Linked DNA regions of Homo sapiens: all the other regions are linked to region 3. Evidence: fine-mapped expression QTL. A gene starts in region 3. Each other region holds a variant in brackets. All regions are shown on one strand. Distances are between the middles of the regions. Region 1 overlaps TATDN2 (TatD DNase domain containing 2). Region 2 overlaps IRAK2 (interleukin 1 receptor associated kinase 2). Region 3 holds the start of IRAK2 (interleukin 1 receptor associated kinase 2).

Evidence for each region. PIP is the estimated chance that this variant, and not a neighbour inherited with it, causes the effect. A credible set is the group of variants that fine-mapping cannot tell apart.
Region 1: its variant is the best candidate, but not a certain one, in a credible set for the expression of IRAK2 in whole blood (TOPMed, PIP 0.89).
Region 2: its variant is the best candidate, but not a certain one, in a credible set for the expression of IRAK2 in whole blood (TOPMed, PIP 0.87).

What each region holds. Positions count from the first base shown.
Region 1 is chr3:10,268,621-10,274,854 of GRCh38, reverse strand. TATDN2 (TatD DNase domain containing 2) reads right to left here. Exons shown (of 8, transcript NM_014760.4): 4 at 3,840-4,724. Among named protein-coding and RNA genes, the nearest start is that of MIR12127, 8.6 kb to the left of the region's middle. The variant CG/G (reference allele first, on the strand shown) is at 3,081.
Region 2 is chr3:10,216,553-10,222,732 of GRCh38, reverse strand. It overlaps IRAK2 (interleukin 1 receptor associated kinase 2), which reads right to left. Exons shown (of 13, transcript NM_001570.4): 7 at 5,685-5,799; 8 at 2,944-3,053; 9 at 1-97. LOC124906338 (U6 spliceosomal RNA) reads right to left here and starts at 5,521; the gene lies at 5,414-5,521. The variant T/C (reference allele first, on the strand shown) is at 3,123.
Region 3 is chr3:10,161,855-10,168,088 of GRCh38, reverse strand. IRAK2 (interleukin 1 receptor associated kinase 2) reads right to left here and starts at 3,170. Exons shown (of 13, transcript NM_001570.4): 1 at 3,041-3,170. The coding sequence starts at 3,134. RefSeq lists silencers at 2,856-3,005, 3,206-3,335.

The DNA.
Region 1 (6,234 bases), 110 kb before region 3:
ACTTGAGAATATTTACAAGTCTAACACCTGTACTGCCTCTTCTCAAAATAGCAACACTAAGCCAATACCAATTCTGATGTAACTTTTGTTTAATCTGTGTTTTCAAAGAAAGGAAAATGACCACAGACATCAAAATTATAGACTGCTTGACAGAGGCTTTATCTAAAGCCTGGCCAGTTCCACTATCAATAGGTGGCTGGAGCCCCTCCTATTTGCATCTGCTAAGCTGTTCATCTGCCCTCCCCGACCCCTACACACAGGCAGCAGAGGTTTCAAGAGATTCCAATTCCAACATTTCATTCCTGCCTCTAAAAAATTATCCCTCAGAGTAGTGAAATAAACTATTAGAGCTTTAGGATAGAATATTACACAGCTGTTAAACATTTTTCAAAGTATAGCTGATGAATGGGAAAATTTCACGAGTAGAAAAGACACTTAAAACTATTTAATTTCCTAATTTCTTTCTTTAACACAAGCACACACATCCAACCTACGACAGGTGCATGGAAGACAAGCCACTGTGCAACTGTTCCTTGCAATTGTATTGTACCTTGCAATTTTCCAAGGAACAATAACATTACATTTATAATGTTTCATGAAACACATCCAGATTTCAAAAATGTTAAGAAGGAAGAAGAACTCATTAGAATGCAGGAACTTGTGGTTGGACAGGAGCTATTTGCAGCATTTGTCCTCACCAGGAACCCAGCTGAAAAACAACAGGAGTGAAGGAAGTACAGATGAGTTATTACCCAGTATAATTACTCACTTCTACCTGCATAAGGTTGGCTTCCTAACTGATCCATTATTTCCAGGGATTCCAGAGTTAGTCTCTCCTGGGAGTTGCCCCAGGCATCTCTTGCATATTTATTACTTTAATAATTAATTAATTCCTCTTTAACACAAGTAAAGAGATACAGCCTGGGTAGGGAAGGACAGTCTACTCTCCCTGGCATCCCTCCCAGATGCTGACATGTGCAACTTACACACAAACTATTCAGGATCTAACTCTTATGAGTTACATAGTTAATCTGTAAACACCACAGATCAACAAAGAAAACGTTAACAGTAATTTGCTCTAACCAGCAGAATAACTATAACTACCCATTCTTTCCCCAATTGTTTTGCTTTTCTCTATTTTCCAATCCTTCCAGAAAATTTTAGGTACATCAACCAAACTCTCCTATAATGAGCAGGGTCTGTCACCCTATCATCTTGCCCAGATACAGACCTTCCACAGGCTCTTTTTTTTTTTTAATGTAATAAAGATGGGGTCTCACTATGTTGCCTTGGCTCATCTTGAACTCCTAGGCTCAAGCAATCTCCTGCCTCAGACTCCCAAAGTGTTGGGATTACAGGCGTGAGCCACCTCGCCCAGCCCTCTATAGGTTCTTCTTCTTCCCTTCACAAGATAAAACATTCAGCAGGACACATCCAGAACTTGCTAACTGCTCTTTTAGGTAAATGCAACTCAGCACTGACATCCAACTAGGTGCAGTTGCCAGTCACCACCATTCACCTCATTTGGGTGCCAAATTTTTTATTTACATCAAAACAGTGTCCATATCCCCCACCCAGCCTAGGAGTCTCTGGTGTTGACAAATATTTTCTAGTCTTCCTCCCCTTTACAGGCAGCTTAGCCCTCTCCCAGCCAGCAACTCCTCAGACTCATTATCTTCCAGTCTTGAGTCAAATCTCACCAAGCCAAATGACATCTTCAAGACTGTGTTTATCCCCCTATGCCTATCGCTTCTAGTTCAGTTTGTTGTGCAGGTCGCCCCATGGACCTTTAAGTGCAGACCTGAGACCCTGATAATTTTGTCTTGAGACAGGGTCTCACTCTGTCACCCAGGCTGGAGCATAATCATGGGTCACTGCAGCTCAACCTCCCAGGCTCAAGCAATCCTCCTGCCTCAGCCTCCTGAGTAGCTGGGACCCCAGGCATGTACCATCACACCCAGCTAATTTTTTTTTTTTTTTTTGGTAGAGATAGGGTTTCACCATGTTGGCCAGGCTGGTCTCCAACTCCTGGCCTCAGGTGATCCGCTCGCCTTGGCCTCCCAAAGTGCTGGGATTACAGGCATGAGTCACCACACCCAGCTATACCCAGCTAATTTTTGTATTTTTAATAGAGACGGGGTTTCGCCACGTTGGCCAGGCTGGTCTCCAACTCCTGGCCTCAGGTGATCCGCCTGCCTCGGCCTCCCAAAATACTGGGATTACAGGTGTGATCCTGTAAATACAAAAAATTAGCTGGGCGTGGTGGCGGGAGTCTATAATCCCAGCTACTCAGGAGGCTGAGGCAAGAGAATCGCTTGAACCTGGGAACTGGAGGCTGCAGTGAGCCAATATCATGCGATTGCACTCCAGCCTGGCCAACAAGAGTGAAACTCTGCCTTAAAAAAAAAAAAAAATTAGCCGGGTGTGGTGGCAGGCACCTGTAATCCCAGCTACTCAGGAGGCTGAGCCAGGAGAATCACTTGAACTGGGGAGGTGGAGGTAGCAGTGAGCTGAGATCGTACCGCTGCCCTCCAGCCTGGGTGACACAGCAAGACTCCATCTCAAAAAAATTTTTATTTTTAATTAGCCAGGCGTGGTGGTGTGCACCTGCAGTCCCAGCTACTTGGGAGGCTGAGGTGGGAGGATCACTTGAGCCCAGGAGGTCAAGGCTGCAGTGAGCTGTGGCTGCACCACTGAACTCCAGTGTGGGCGACAAAGACCTTATCTCTGAAAAAAAAAGAAAAGAAATTCTAAAATACTACAACTCTTACCCTGCCAAAGCACTATGCTCAAAAAATATTGGGAGGAAAAAAAATATTAACAGGGGGCGGGCGCAGTGGCTCAGGTCTGTAATCCCAGCACTTTTCGGACGCCGAGGCAGGTGGATTACTTGAGGTCAGGAGCTCGAGACTAGTCTAACAAACATGGTGAAACCCCACCTCTACTAAAAATACAAAAATTAGCCACGCAAGGTGGCACACACCTGCAGTCTCAGCTACTCGGGAGGCTGAGGCAGGAGAATCGCTTGAACCCAGGAGGCGGAGGCGGAGGCGGAGGTGGAGGCCGCAGTGAGCCGAGAT[CG/G]TGCCACTGCCCTCCAGCCTGGGTGACAGAGTGAGATTCTGTCTCCAAAAAGAAAAAGAAAAAAATATTAACAGAGTATTAGCCATGATCTCTGGTTGAATGGGAAATTATGCATTTTTTCATATTTTTTCAAATATTCTGCAATGGGTATATTTAAAAAAAACAATGCAGGCCAGGCGCAGTGGCTCATGCCTGTAATCACAGCACTTTCGGAGGCCAAGGCGGGTGGATCACCTGAGGTCAGGAGTTCAATACCAACCTGGCCAACATGGTCTCTATTAAAAATACAAAAATTAGCCGGGTGTAGTGATGCACGCCTGTAATCCCAGCTACTTGGGAGGCTGAGGCAGGAAAACAGTTTGAACCCAGGAGGCGGAGGTTGCAGCGAGCTGAGATCGCACCACTGCACTCCAAAGCCTGGGCAAAAGAGCAAGACTCCCTCTCAAAAAATCAATTAAGAAAACCTAAAGTTTATTGCTTCCCAAGAAAGAAAGAAAACAAATGTTTTGACATTGATATCATCCATAAGAAGTCACAAAGTACTTCTCCCTCATCTTCCATAATAAAGCTGAACAGTAAGAAATAGCTTGTAAAGCATTTGACAAATGGCATCTAGATGGTCTGGATGAGAGCAAGCACACTGCGTTTTCAGGGATTCTCAATTATTTACTTCTAAAATTAGATAAACCCTTATTGTCAGGCTTCAACAACTAAAAGAAAAATTAAAACTATAAGCAGACTAAAGAGAGCCTTGTTACCTTGTGCTGTTCTGGGACAGGCGTGGTGCACTTGTAAGAGTAATCCAAGCCCATTTCTCCAAATGCCACAGCCTTAGGGTGCCTTAAGGCTTGCAAAAGATTTCTTTCTTGACTCTCACTGTAGTAACGTGCAAAATGAGGGTGACAGCCAAAGGCCCCCCAGACCAGATCCTCTTTCAACAGCTCCTCCCATAGGCAATCTGTCAGGGTGCGGGGATCACAGAAGTCAGAGATGCAGCCCTGAAATTCCTTAGGGAAGGAGCTGCTGTAAATTTTTCTGAACTTTGTAAAGGTCCCTTGGAAAGATAGCTTGGAATAGAGCATGTCCAGGTGACAATGAGTGTCAATGAAGCCCTCCTCTAGGCTTGGCTCCAGGTGGCTCTTTGGCAGGGAGCTGGATGCGTGTCCTCCACAAGGACGCGGAGGCATCTCCTCTTGGAATGTTCTTTTCTCCTTCACCTCTCTTTCTTCTGAGCTTCTGGAGAAGCGAAATGAACGAGAATTCTGGGACCAGCCTTCCTCTGAGGCCTCCATGTCTCTGGAGGTGTTTTGGACACTCCCTGTAGAGTTGGGGGAATAATCACTCATGCGGCTCCGGCTGCTCTTCCCAACCTGGGCTGCATCGTTGCTGCTGCTGCCTGTGGAGGGGTAGCTAGAAGGCTTGGGGCTGCTGGTCCAATAGCTGGCGTAGTCACACCAAGGACTACTGTACAAATGAGGAGGGTACATGACATAGTCGGTGGTGAAGGAAGAAGGCTCCGGAACGGCTGAAGGTTTCAGGGAGACAGGTTCCTCCTGAGAGAATCTGACTGTGGAGATCTCCTCAACATCAGACCAGTCACTTCCAGAAGAGGGGTGCTCCATCACCACCTCCCTATCTTTATGCTGCAGAAAAGAAGGCATACAACAGTGGGTTAGCCTTCCGATGTGAAGATGGCCTCCCAGGCTGTCATCAGCTGAACATAAACCCTGGCTTGTTCTTCTGGCCATGGTGATGGCTTTGCATTGGCTCATTAGCTCACCCTGTCACCTGGTTTCCTTACAATTTCCAGAAATGTCCAGAACTGAGCCAAGTTACTGCTGTGAACAGCTGTATTGGGTTCAGGGAATAGGCCTGTGACCATGGCCTCATCATGCTACTCCTAAAGGTGGTGCTCTACCTGCATCCCTTTCTCTTGAGAAAAACTGCTCTCTAGAACACACTCCGGATTGGAGATTTTAGAGAAAAGCAGTGCCCAGCTTTTCCTCTCTGACACTGTCGTCAATATATTCAAAATGTAAAATTACAACAGCTGTGGCAGTTGTATTTTTTTTTCAGACAGGGTCTTGCTCTGTTGCCCAGGCTGGAATGCGGTGGTGAGATCTCGACTCACTGAAACCTTGAACTACTGGGCTCAAGTAATCCTCTTGCCTCAGCCATCCAAGTAGCTGGGACTACAGGCACGCACCACCACATCTGGCTAATTTCTTGTAGGTAGGGGGTCTCCCTATATTGCCCAGGCTGGTCTCAAACTCCTGGACTCAAGCAATCCTCCTGCCTTGGCCTCCCAAAATGCTGAAATTACAGGCATAAGCCACCACACCTGGCCATTGTGACAGTTTTTAAACGTGTCCCCGAATTATTTAACCCTTCTCCCCATTGAGAGTGGGGTCTATGACCCCTCCCCTTAATCTGGACCTACCTAGAGACTTACTTATAGCCAAAAGAATGCAACAGAAGCGAAGCTGTGTAACTTCCAAGGCCAGGTCAGAAGGGCCTTGTAGCTTCCATCTGGTTCACTCCACTTGCTCACTCTGGAGCAAGCCAAGCACCATGTAAGAAGTCCGGCAACCCAAATGACATCCTGCTAGAGAGGCCACATGTAGGTGTGCCAGTTTACAGCCTGGCTGACTTACTGGCTGACAGCCAACATCTGTCCACCATGTAAGTGAACATCTCGGATGTCCAGCCCAGTCACACTCTCAGATGACGACAGCCCTCGCCAAAATCTGAAAGGAACTACATGGGGCTCCCCAAGAAACACCTGCCCCAGTCTAGGCCTTTCCAAATTCCTGACCCACAGTACTGAGAGCAAAAGAAAAGTTATTTTAAGCTACTAACTAGTAATAGTGACTGAAACAACCATCCCTTGCATTAAATCGGCTTAGTCCTACTAGAGAAGGTAAGCGCCACGAGATCAGGAATTTTTATTTTTTTTCCACTGATGTCTCCCCAACACCTAGAACAGTGCCTGGCAGATACTGAGTGCTCATGAATATCTGCTGAATTAATTTTTAGAATAAATGGTGCCTCAACTTAGCATCACATCTCCATCAACTGGGTAGCATTTTAAAAACAGATTTTTAAGGCCCATTCCACCCTGAGATATTGTGATTCAATAGGTCCAAGGTGGGG
Region 2 (6,180 bases), 55 kb before region 3:
CATCATGGTGTATTTTGACCTTTTGTTGACAGGACACAGATGAGCCATTGGGTGAGCAAGTTTGGGGGTGAGATTTTGGTCCAGCAAGACATTAGAGCTGTGGAAATGAAAGGAGAGGGAACCTTCTCATTTTGAGCTGGATAACAACAAGTTGCCATGGAGACCCTTTGGGGAGACAATATAGCAACCTCACCTCCTGCAAGTTGAGGTCTCTAAAGACCCTCAGCATGGAGCTTCTGAGCCAGCCCTGACTGGGGAAGAGAGGGCATCAGGAGCACACTCCCTCCAGCAAATGGAGATGGAGTTCAGACTTAGTCTTGCTGCCCCAGGAATGTGGCCAAAGTGCAGCCTCCCTGATCCCCACAGATGCCAACCCTGATCAGCCTCAGCTTGCCACGCCTACAGGCTGTGCAGACTCAGTCTCTTCCACAACTGTTCCAACCCCCAGCTCTGGCCTGGCTGACTCAGGTCTAAGTGGCCAGCATCCTTTGTGACTAAACCTGCCCAGATCATGTAAAAAAAGAAAGAAAAAAAAATTCCCTCTTGGCCGGGCACAGTGGCTCACGCCTGTAATCCCAGCACTTTGGGAGGCCGAGATGGGCAGATCACCTGAGGTCAGGAGTTCAAGACCAGCCTGGCCAGCATGCCGAAACTCCATCTCTACTAAAAATACAAAAATTAACCAGCCGTGGTGGTGTGCGCCTGTAGTCCCAGCTACTCAGGAGGCTGAGGCAGGAGAATTGCTTGAACCCGGAAGCAGAGGTGCACTCCAGCCTGGGCAACAGAGTGGTACACTGTCTCAAAAAAAATCATTTGATCTAGTCATCTAACCCCCAGGAGCAAACACTGAGAACATACTCCAAAATGGGAAAAAGCTAAGCCACATGTGTACAGATATATAGTGCAGGCCAGGTGCAGTGACTCATGCCTGTAATCCCAACACTTTGTGAGGCCGAGACAGGAGGATCACCTGAGCCCAGGAGTTTGAGACCAGCATGGGCAGCATGGCAAGACCTCATCTCTACTAAAACAAACAAATTCAGCACGGCATGGTGGTGCGTGCCTGTGGTCCCAGCTACTTGGGAGGCTAAGGTGGGAAGCTGCGGTGAGCTGAGATTGCGCCACTGTACTCCAGCCTGGGCAAAAGAGCAAGGCCCTGTCTCAAAAAAAAATTTTTTTTGGCCAGGCGCGGTGGCTCACACCTGTAATCCCAGCACTTTGGGAGGCCAAGGTGGGTGGATCACGAGGTCAGGAGATCGAGACCATCATGGCTAACACAGTGAAACCCTATCTCTACTAAAAATACAAAAAGTTAGCCGGGCATGGTGGCAGGCGCCTGTAGTCCCAGCTACTCTGGAGGCTGAGGCAGGAGAATGGCGTGAACCTGGGAGGCGGAGCTTGCAGTGAACAGAGATTGTGCCACTGCACTCCAGCCTGGGCCACAGAGCGCGACTCCATCTCAAAAAAAAAAAAAAAAAAAAAAATTTTTTTTTTTGGTATTTTTAGTAGAGACGAGGTTTCACCGTGTTAGCCAGGATGGTCTCGATCTCTTGACCTCGTGATCTGCCCGCCTTGGCCACCCAAAGTGCTGGGATTACAGGCGTGAGCCACCGCGCCCGGCCAAAAAAAAAACTTTTTTAGCGTGTGTGTGTGTGCACGCCCGCAAATGCACGGGTGTGTGTGCCAGGAGTGGTTAAGTAAATTATGGGCAAATTCCTTCACGGGAAGACTAAGACACTAAAAAACATGACGGTATACAATGTAGCGAAATGTTTACTATGTTTAAATGAAGGGGTAAAAAACAGGATGTGAATTGGTACCCAGGTGCTACCTCAGGACTAAGGATTTGTATAGGCAGGAAGTGAAAAAAGAAACAAAACCTAGAGGCCAGCTGATGAGTCATGGGGTAGGTTAGTGGTGACCTCTCTCACCCTTTCATTTCCTTGCCTGCTATTAGAATTATTGATGCAATCAAATAAAAATTAGGGGAGAGAGCCGGGGTGGTGGCTCTCACCTGTAATCCCAGCACTATAGGAGACCAAGGCGGGTGGATCACCTGAGGTCAGGAGTTCGACACTAGCCTGGCCAACATGGTGAAAGCCTATCTACTAAAAATACAAAAATTAGCTGGGTGTGGTGGCGAGCACCTGTAATCCCAGCTACTCAGGAGGCTAAGGCAGGAGAATCGCTTGAACCAGGGAGGTGGAGGTTGCAGTGAGCTGAGATCGCACCACTGCATTTCAGCCTGGGTGACAAGCGTGAAACTCCGTCTCAAAAAACAAAAAAAAAATTGGGGGAGAGAAAAGAGGAAAGGACTTCCACAAGTCAAATGGAAAGAGAACTTTGGGGAAATACGAGTTCTGTGTCTCTGGAGCCAGTTCTGCCAGATATTCTGGTATCTTCGGAATCCCTCCCTATCCTAACCGTCTCCAGATGGGGACCTCTCCCTCTCATGTGCATGGCACTGACATGCAGGGGTGCAGGCCTAACCTGCAGGAGCCTTCCAGACAAGATGCTAACACCAACAGCTACACAAGAAGGGGACAGGTCTCAGAAAAGACACTGAACGAGGAGCTCAAAATCCCAGGGGGTTGGCAGACATGGCCCAAAGTTCGAGGATGAGGTCCAGGCCAGCTGCTGAGTGGACAGTGCGACGCAGCAAGGTGTGGAGGGCTTGTTGGGAAAACAGCAGCTCAGAAAGACAAATGTGACAGGTAGGCAATTCATCCTGAGAGCAATTGGACTTGGAGCACAGCCCGGAAACACTCATTTTTGAGGGCATAACAGAGAAAAAGACATCCAGGGGAGGGCAGAGGAGAGGAGGTAGGAAGAGAAAAACAAAGAGGACAGGGGTGAGTGGCGGAGCGGGAGGTGAGCCAGGAATAGGCACCAGTTCCACCCTTGCAGCCCAGGCCCCAGCAGGGTCCAGCCCACCTCTCTCACCTCTTGACGTTGCTGTGGATGATCTCCAGACCATGCAGGTACTCGACGGCACAGAGCAGCCCTGAGCAGATGCTGACACGCTGGGGCCAGGGGAGGGGGTCCGAGCCACCCTAAGAGAAAGAAAAGCAGGAGGACAAATAGTCACAATGTACCTTTTTAAAGTCCTGATGGCAGCCAGG[T/C]GCGGTGGCTCACACCTGTAATCCCAGCACACTGGGAGGCCCAGGCAGGCAGATCACTAGTTCAGGAGATCGAGACCATCCTGGCTAACACGGTGAAACCCCATCTCTACTAAAAATACAAAAAATTAGCCGGTCCTGGTGGCGGCTGCCTGTAGTCCCAGCTATTTGGGAGGCTGAGGCAGGAGAATGGCGTGAACCCAGGAGGCAGAGCTTGCAGTAAGCCGAGATTGCACCACTGCACTGCAGCCTGGGTGACAGAGCGAGACTCCATCTCAAAAAAAAACAAAAACAAAAACAAAAAAACGAAGTCCTGATGGCAGGGTCCCAGGCTCCTGATCCTCCTCCCACCCTTCATGTCCTCTGTCACAGGGCTCAGCATGATACTGTGAGTTTTTTCATTGTTTTGTGTTTGCTGGTTTTGAGACAGGTCTTGCTCTGTCACCCAGACTGGAGTGCAGCATCATAGCTCACTGTAGCCTTAAAATCCCAGGCTGAAGTGACTCTCCCGCCTCAGACTCCCGAATAGCTGGGATCACAGGCACGTGCCACCACTCTCAACTAATTTTTGTATTTTTCGTGGAGACAGGGTTTTGCCATGTTGGCCAGGCTGGTCTCGAACTCCTGGGCTCAAGCGATCCGTCCACCTCGCTCTCCCAAAGTGCTGGAATTACAGGCATGAGCCATGTGCCTGACCCTGTACTATGGGTTTTGACATCAGACAGATCTAGGTGTAACTCCCAGTTCAGACATGCATTAGCTGTATAATTTTGGAAAAAGACACTTAACATCTCTGAGCCTCAGTTTCCTTGGGTATAAAATGGAAATGTTAATCCCTATATTTTAGGGTTGCTGTAAGGATTCAAGGGAGTATATGGTATACCCCTAGCATAGCACCTGCCACACAGTAGGTGCTCAATCAGCAGTTATTTTTATCATGTCCATTACAGAGGCTGCTCTGGAATTTCTCTCTAAAAGAAGCTGGATGGGAGAGGAGCTAGGGAGCTTGTGTTTGCAAGCCAAGCACCTGGGCCTTACGCTGATTTTATCTGTATTAGGGGAAACTTCACCAGGGCTGATGGGGATTGTGGGATGGGCTAAAGCCTCTCATTTGCTCCCACTGTTGTTCTAAGACTGACTCTCCCAGGCTAAATCATCACCGTTTTGGTTTTTTTTTTTTTTTTTTTTTTGAGACGGAGTCTCACTTTGTCGCCCAGGCTGGAGTGCAGTGGTGCAATCTCGGCTCACCGCAACCTCTGCCTCCCGGGTTCAAGTGATTCTCCTGTCTCAGCCTCCTCAGTAGCTGGTACTACAGGCACACGCCACCACGCCTGGCTAATTCTTATATTTTTAGTAGAGACAGGGTTTCACCATATTGGTCAGGCTGGTGTCAAACTCCTGACCTCAAGTGATCCACCCACCTCGGCTTCCCAATGTACTGGGATTACAGGCGTGAGCCACTGTGCCCAGCCTCATCACCTATTTTTGAAGCCCTGGTGTAGGTCCCACATCCTCTAAGAACTGGCCTGGACAGCCCCTGCTAATTTCTTCTCAAAAACTCTGAAACCTAGAGCCAGACGAACCCAATGTAAGCTCTGGCCTGACATTTGTCCTCTATGTTCCTTTGGGCAAGTCACTTTGTCTCTATGTGTCAGAGATTCCTCTTTTGAAAAATGAGGGAAGAAATTGCTTTGGTTGTGGCACGGCCTGGAGGTGATGACCTACGTAAAACCCTTATCACAGCAACCTGCATACAGTGAGTGCCCAGAAAAGCTAAAGATCATTAGTATGCCGTGAGTAACTGCTTTGTCTTGTCCCTGCCATGGGAAGCAATAATTCTGTTATGGAATAACTCTTTCCCCTCTATTTGAGGATAAGATAAGCAGAAGACCTGTTTTAAAACACTGTAATTTTTATTAAGGATTACCTTCACATGATATAATACTCTAATAGTAAGTTTGCTTCTTATCCTAGGCCCCAATCACCTAGTTCTGCTCCCTAGCAGCAGCCAGTAAACCAGTTTCTTGTGTATCTTTCCAGAGACATTCCATAAACACACAAGCAAATAGGTATATATTAGAAGAACATTTTATAATAAAAATTCACCTCCACTTTTCCATACTCTTTACCTCTTAATTCTTTTTCTTGTCCTACTGCATTGGCTAACACCTCCAGAACCATGACGAACGAAGTTAGTTCTATGAGATACCTTTGTCCTGCTCTTGATTTGAATGAAATGCTTCTCGTCAAATAATTTTTTATAGATTTTTCCTGAAGATGTTTAATCAGATCTTTTTGAGCTTTTCTTTTTCTTTTTCATATTTTGTCATCCTCATTCAGAGGCCATGCTGATCTTCTCTGTATCGTTCCAATTTTGGTATATGTGCTGCCAAAGTGAGCACTTAACCAGATCTTATGTATCCTGGCCCCACTTCTCTCCTTGAAGTCTCCCTGGTCTCACCTAGATGGCCCCTCTCCCCTCTGAACTTCTGTAAGTCCTTAACCCTTGACCCCATGGCTGGGTGCAGCCTGGTCCCATTCTCTGACCATGACCCAGTCCCTTACCTGACCCTGCAGTCTGTCCTGTAGGGAACCATTTGCCATGTAGGGGTAGATGAAGCTGTGAAACTGTCTTGCAGCACAGAAGCCCAGCACAGGTAAGACATTGGGGTGGCAGCATCTGGAATCGGGCGTCAGTGCAGGTGTGAGGAGTCAGACGGAAAGAATGATCTACTTCCTCATGTCCCACCCCTCTTCTGCCCTCTCCTCCTCCAACGCCACCAATAACCTCCCAGGTACCACATACTCTGACCCCTAAGGGCCTGGCCCCAGGGTGGAAAGATGAAAACTGTCTGCCTTCAACGAGTATGGTGGTCCTCATCCTGCTTTACTGCTCTGCAACACATGACATCTCAACTGCCCCATCTCCAGAAACGGAGACTGAGAGGTTAAGGGACTTGCCCAAGGTCACAAACTAGAAAGCAGTAAAGCCAGGACCAGATCCCACACCTGCCTGACTCTAGGACTGGGGTTCTTTCCTGAAATCCTCTTCTGCTGGTTC
Region 3 (6,234 bases):
GCAGTGGCTCACACCTGTAATCCCAGCAATTTGGGAAGGTGAGATGGGCAGATCGCTTGAGCTCCAGAGTTCAAGATCAGCCTGAGTAACATGGTGAAACCTGTCTCTACAAAAAATACAAAAGTTAGCTGGGTGCAGCAGTGCACACCTGTAGTCCAGCTACTCAGGAGACAGGAAGATCGCTTGAGCCCAGGAAGTTGGGGCTGCGGTGAGCTACATTTGCACCACTGCACAAAATCTTGTATGTGAGTGTTCACAGCAGCACTATTCACAATGGCCCAAAAGTGAAAAGAACCCAATGCCCAACAACTGATAAATGAATGAAATGTAGTATATCCATACCATGGAACATTATCCTACAATAAAAAGAAACTGGCTGGGCGCGGTGGCTCACGCCTGTAATCCCAGCACTTTGGGAAGCCGAGGTAGGTGGATTACACGGTCAGGAGATCAAGACCATCCTGGCTAACACAGTGAAACCCCATCTCTACTAAAAATACAAAAAAATTAGCCGGGCATGGTGGCAGGCACCTGTAGTCCAAGCTGCTAGGGAGGCTGAAGCAGGAGAATGGCATGAACCCAGGAGGTGGAGCTTGCAGTGAGCCGAGATTGCGCCACTGCACTCCAGCCTGGGTGACAAAGCGAGACTCCGTCTCAAAAAAAAAAAAAAGAAACTAAGTATTGACGCATGCTACAACATGGATGAACCTCATGTTAGTTGAAACAAGTCAGTCACAGAGCACTATATATTATATGATTCCATTTATATGAAATGTCCAAAATAGGCAATGTCTAAAACTCAGGAAAATGGAAGGAGGGGATTGGAAGTTAACGGGTACAGAGTTTCTTCTTCGGGTGATTAAAATGTTCTAAGATTGATTGTGAAGATGGATACACAGCCCTGTGAATATACTAAATACCACTAAATTGTACTCCTGAAACAGGTGGATTGTATGGTATGTGAATATCTCAGTAAAGCTTTATTTTTTTTTTAAGTCATAGGTATGCCTTCTAATTGAATTTCCTAGAAACAGAAGTTGTTCTGGCATTTGTAACTGAGGGCTGGGCCAATGTGGAAAAAATGAGAGGGAGTCTCACACAAAGTTTGTTCACTGCCCAGGAAACATTCAAAGTAGTGAAGCCAGGTCCAGGAGCAGTGGCTCACGCCTGTAATCCCAGCACTTTGGGAGGCCAAAGCGGCCAAATCACATGAGGTCAGGAGTTCGAGACCAGCCTGGCCAACATGGCGAAACCCCATCTCTACTAAAAACATAAAAATTAGTGGGCGTGGTGGCACATGCCTGTAATCCCAGCTACTCGGGAGGCTGAGGCAAGAGAATCACTTGAATCCAAGAGGCGGAAGCTGCAGTGAGCCGAGATCTCGCCACTGCATTCCAGCCTGGGCCACAGAATGAGACTGTCTCAAAAAAATAAAAATGAAAAGAGAATATTACAACTTATGACTTATAAGAATATTTAACACTTAGGTGTCAGTGCTTTTATACAGTATTTTCATTCCTCACAACTTTATGAAGAAGCTATAATTATCATCTCCAGTTTACATACAGATTCAGAAGCTGAGGCTCAGAGAGGTTAACAAACTGGCCCAAAGTCATACAGCAAGAGCCTGGAATGCAGATCTCCACCTGGAAAGCAGAGACAACAGGCAAGCGGCCTCCCCGCAGAGTCCATGGCCCTCTCCGCCAGTCATCCGTCAGGCACCAACAAACAAAACATATGGAGGCTGTCTGAGTGCCTTCCCACGGAATTATCTAGAACTGTGCACCTTGCAATAGAGTGAAAGTAAGTGCTTGTGCTTAGGCCCCATTATACACACTGAATCTATTAGGACACATCTGATCTCAAAACAGGTTGATAGTCATAAATACTGTGATCAAAACAATGTACACTAAAAGTAAATATCTGATTTTAAAACTATAATGGTAAAGTACATTTAATCACAAATATGATAAATAGGCTGGGCACAGTGGCTCACGCCTGTAATCCCAGCACTTTGGGAGGCCGAAGCAGGTGGATCGCCTGAGATCAAGAGTTCCGGAGGCCGGGCGCGGTGGCTCATGCCTGTAATCCCAGCACTTTGGGAGGCCCAGGGTGGGCGGATCACAAGGTCAGGAGATCCAGACCATCCTGGCTAACACGGTGAAACCCCGTCTCTACTAAGAATACAAAGTTAGCCGGGCGTGGTGGCGGGCGCCTGTAGTCCCAGCTACTCAGAAGGCTGAGGCAGGAGAATGGCGTGAACCCGGGAGGCGGAGCTTGCAACGAGCCTAGATCGCGCCACTGCACTCCAGCCTGGGCGACAGAGTGAGACTCCGTCTTAAAAAAAAAAAAAAAAAAAAAAAAAAATAGTTCAAGACCAGTCTGGCCAACATGGTGAAACCCGGTCTCTACTGAAAATACAAAAAATTAGCCAGGGTGGTAGCGGGCGCCTGTAATCCCAGCTACTCGGGAGGCCGAGGCAGGAAAATCGCTTGAATCCCAGAGGTGGAGGTTGCAGTGAGCCGAGACCGTGCCATTGCACTCCAGCCTGGGCAACAACAGCGAAACTCCGTTTCAATATATATATATATGTTAAATCATAGATCCTTCTAATATACACTAAAACTAAACACACCACACACACACACACACACACCCCCCCAAGAAGTGACAGCACCGTGGGTCCCTACAGGGTCGAGGCTCGCACTTTGCAGGCTGTTGTGGGCTGGATGAGAGGCCACCTGGGGACGTCACCGAGCCAGCAGCGCTGACAGGAGGGCCCCCGTACCCACCGTTCTCTGGACTCAGAGCGCAGTGGCGGCGGCCCCTGCTCGTCGACAGACGTCCTCAGAGACCACGCGGCACCTTCAGGTGACAGGCCGAGGTCCGCGGCGGACCCGGTCCAGGAGGCTCAGCTCGCACGCCCTCGGATCGGGACCCGCTGAACCCGGGTGCCCGAGGGAGCTTGGCGGCCGCTCCAGGCGGGATCGCTGGGGGCTCCGGTCGCCCTGGTCCCCTCCCCTCCCCGGGCCGCACTCACCGAACTCCATCCAGTCCCACTCGCTGAGCGCGTCCATGTTGCGGCACAGGTCGTCCAGCACCCAGGAGGGCAGCTGGTAGATGTAGCAGGCCATGGCACGCTACGGGGCCGGCTCCGGCGCGGGACGACTGGGTCGGACACTGCGGGCTGCGGCTTCTCTAGCCAGGGGCGGACCGGCGGGGAAGTGGGCGGGGCGGGAGGGCACCAGCGTCCCCAGCGGCCACGGGCGGCACGACGGCCCCGCCGGCTCCACCCCAGCGCCGGCCAGAGAATCGGAACTGCGAGGGGAAACTGAGGCCCTGGTGGGAGAAGGCCACACGGGAATTCTGCCGCAGCGGCAGGAGGCCTTCTGACCCCACTTCCATCGGCACTACACCATGCATCATGCGCTCATCAAATACTCCATTAATTACCTACTGTATGCCAGGCAACTCCCTAGGTGTTGGTAATACCTGAATAAGAAACCCTACAGCCGGGCGCGGTGGATCACTCCTGTAATCCCAGTACTTTGGGAGGCCGAGGCGGACGGATCACGAGGTCAGGAGTTCGAGACTAGCCTGGCCAATATGGTGAAACCCCGTCACTACTAAAAATACAAAAATTAGCCGGGCACGGTGGCGCACGCCTGTAGTCCCAGCTACCTGGGAGGCTGAGGCAGAAGAATCGCTTGAACCCTGGAGGCGGAGGTTGCAGTAAGCCCAGATTGTGCCCTTGTACTCCAGCCTGGGTGAAGAGTGAGGCTCTGTCTCAAAAAAAAAAAAAAAAAAAAAAAAAAGCCTACAAAAGCCCTTGCTTTCATAAGACTTACAATCTAGGTGTGGAGAGAAAGACTAACAATAAATAATAAATATAGTATGTTACAGAGTGTCTTAAAGGTAATAAGCACTATTGCAAAAAAAAAAAAAAAGGAAAAAAAGTTGGTTAAAGGGAATCAGGAATTCAGATTGAGCATGGGGAATATTCTATTAAATAGGGTAGTCAGGTAGACTTTACTATAGTAGCTAATATGTATCGTGCAGCTACTATGTGCCAGGCACTGTTGTAGGTGCTGGGAATACCTCTGAAGAGAAGGACAAAATCCTTGTCCTGGAGGGAGACAGACAACAAGCAATAAAAATAGGCAGATAAGCTATGTTGGAGAATGAAAGTAGAAGCCTGGGCAACATAGGAAGATCTTATCTCTACAAAAAACTTTTTTTTTTTGAGACGGAGTCTTGCTCTGTAGCCCAGGCTGGAGTGCAGTGGCGCAATCTTGGCTCACTGCAGCCTCTGCCTCCCAGGTCCCGGTTCAAGCAATTCTCCTGCCTCAGTCTCCCGAGTAGCTGGGATTACAGGCACGCGCCACCACGCCCAGCTAATTTTTGTATTTTTAGTAGAGACAGGGTTTCACTGTGTTGGCCAGGATGGTCTTGAACTCCTGACCTCGTGATCCGCCTGCCTCGGCCTCCCAAAGTGCTAGGATTACAGGCATGAGCCACCACGCCTGGCCTCTACAAAAAATTTTAAAATGAGCCAAGCATGGTAGTGTACACCTATAGTCCCAGCTACTCAGGAGGCTAAGGTGGTAGGATCTCTTGAACCCAGGAGTTTGAGGCTGCAGTGAGCTATGACTGCACTGCAGCCTGAGTGACAGAATGAGACCCTGTCTCTGAAAAAAAAAAAAAAAAAAAGAAAGAAAAGAAAGAATAAAAGTAGAGGGTGGTAAAAGGGAGTGCAAGTGGCCAATTGCATTATCTTAGATGATACTATTACTGGGAAAAAAGCAGAGTATGGTGCAGGGGACTGCAGGACAAACTGGATTATTAAATAGGGTATAAGGGGCTGGGTGCGGCGGCTCCCACCTATAACCCCAGCACTTTGGGAGGCAGAGGCAGGCAGATCGCTTGAGCCCAGGAATTCGAGACCAGCCTGGGAAACAGAGCAAGACCCTGTCTCTACAAAAATTAGCCAGGCATGGTGGCATGTGCCTGTAGTCCCAGGTACTTGGGAGGCTAAGGTAGGGGGATCACTTGAGCCCAGGAGGTGGAGATTGCAGTGAGCCAAGATTGCACCACTGCACTCCAGCCTGGGTGAGAGTGAGACCCTGTCTCTAAATAAACAAAGAGGGTACAAGGAACAGAATTTATAGTGTGTGTATACATATATATATATATATATATATATATATATATATATAAAATACACACACACATATATAAAATAGCTAGTATTTATTGAGCACTTACTATGTGTAGCCTTCACCTGGGTTACTTTACTTACTCCTTACAATGACCCTCTGAGGTAGGTATGGTTATAGCCCCATTCTACAAATAAGGAAACTAAGGCACAGAGAGGTTAAATAATATGGCTAAAATCATTTGAACCTAAGTATTCTGACCCCAGGCTCTCCATCACCACTGGCTAAAGTATATTGTAGATACAGATACATTTATCTGTATCTACAATGTACTTTGCAAAAATGATCTTATGTCATTCTTACAAGCCTATACTATAGATATTATTATCCCCATTTTACACAGAAGTAAATAGATTCCAAGAGGTTAGGCGAGGTCACGAAGGGCAGATAAGTAACTAGAGTAGGTACCACTGTATAGCTGTGGCCGTCAGCTATGGAGTAGCGCTGCAAAAGGAGGAAGCTGAAATCAAAGTGAGAAGTCCTAGGGCCAAGTTGCAGTTCTGCCACCAACAGGCTTTGTGACTCTGGACAACTCATTTCATTCGTCAAGCCTTGTTTCCAGCATCTGTAAAGTGGGCCTGCTCCTTCCTACTGCTTAGAGTTGTGAGGGGAGTGGAATAAATCAAATTATGTAGCCTATATAGAACACCTACTACAGGGCTTTCCTCGCACAGAGAATGTGCCCAAAAAATGGTAGCTGTCATTAGTGGTCTTGAAAAGGCACCCACTGGCCTTGGAGTCCTATCAAGTTTGGAGACCTGGTTCAGCCACTCTCCGGCTCTTAGTCCTTTGAGCCAGTTCTGTTTTCCCTTTTGGAAACTGGATCTCCTGCTGCAGCCACTTGGAAGGATTGTTATGAAGCCTAAATGGACTCCAAAACGCTCAAGATCAACTGTGAAGTGCTGAGCCCAGTAAAGGATTACTATTATGTCCTCCTTGATGTTGAAAGTGGGACATATTTCAGTGTTCTGAGACTACTTTTCAAGTGAAGTCCTGTGTTTTCAGCAGTGGCTGAAGG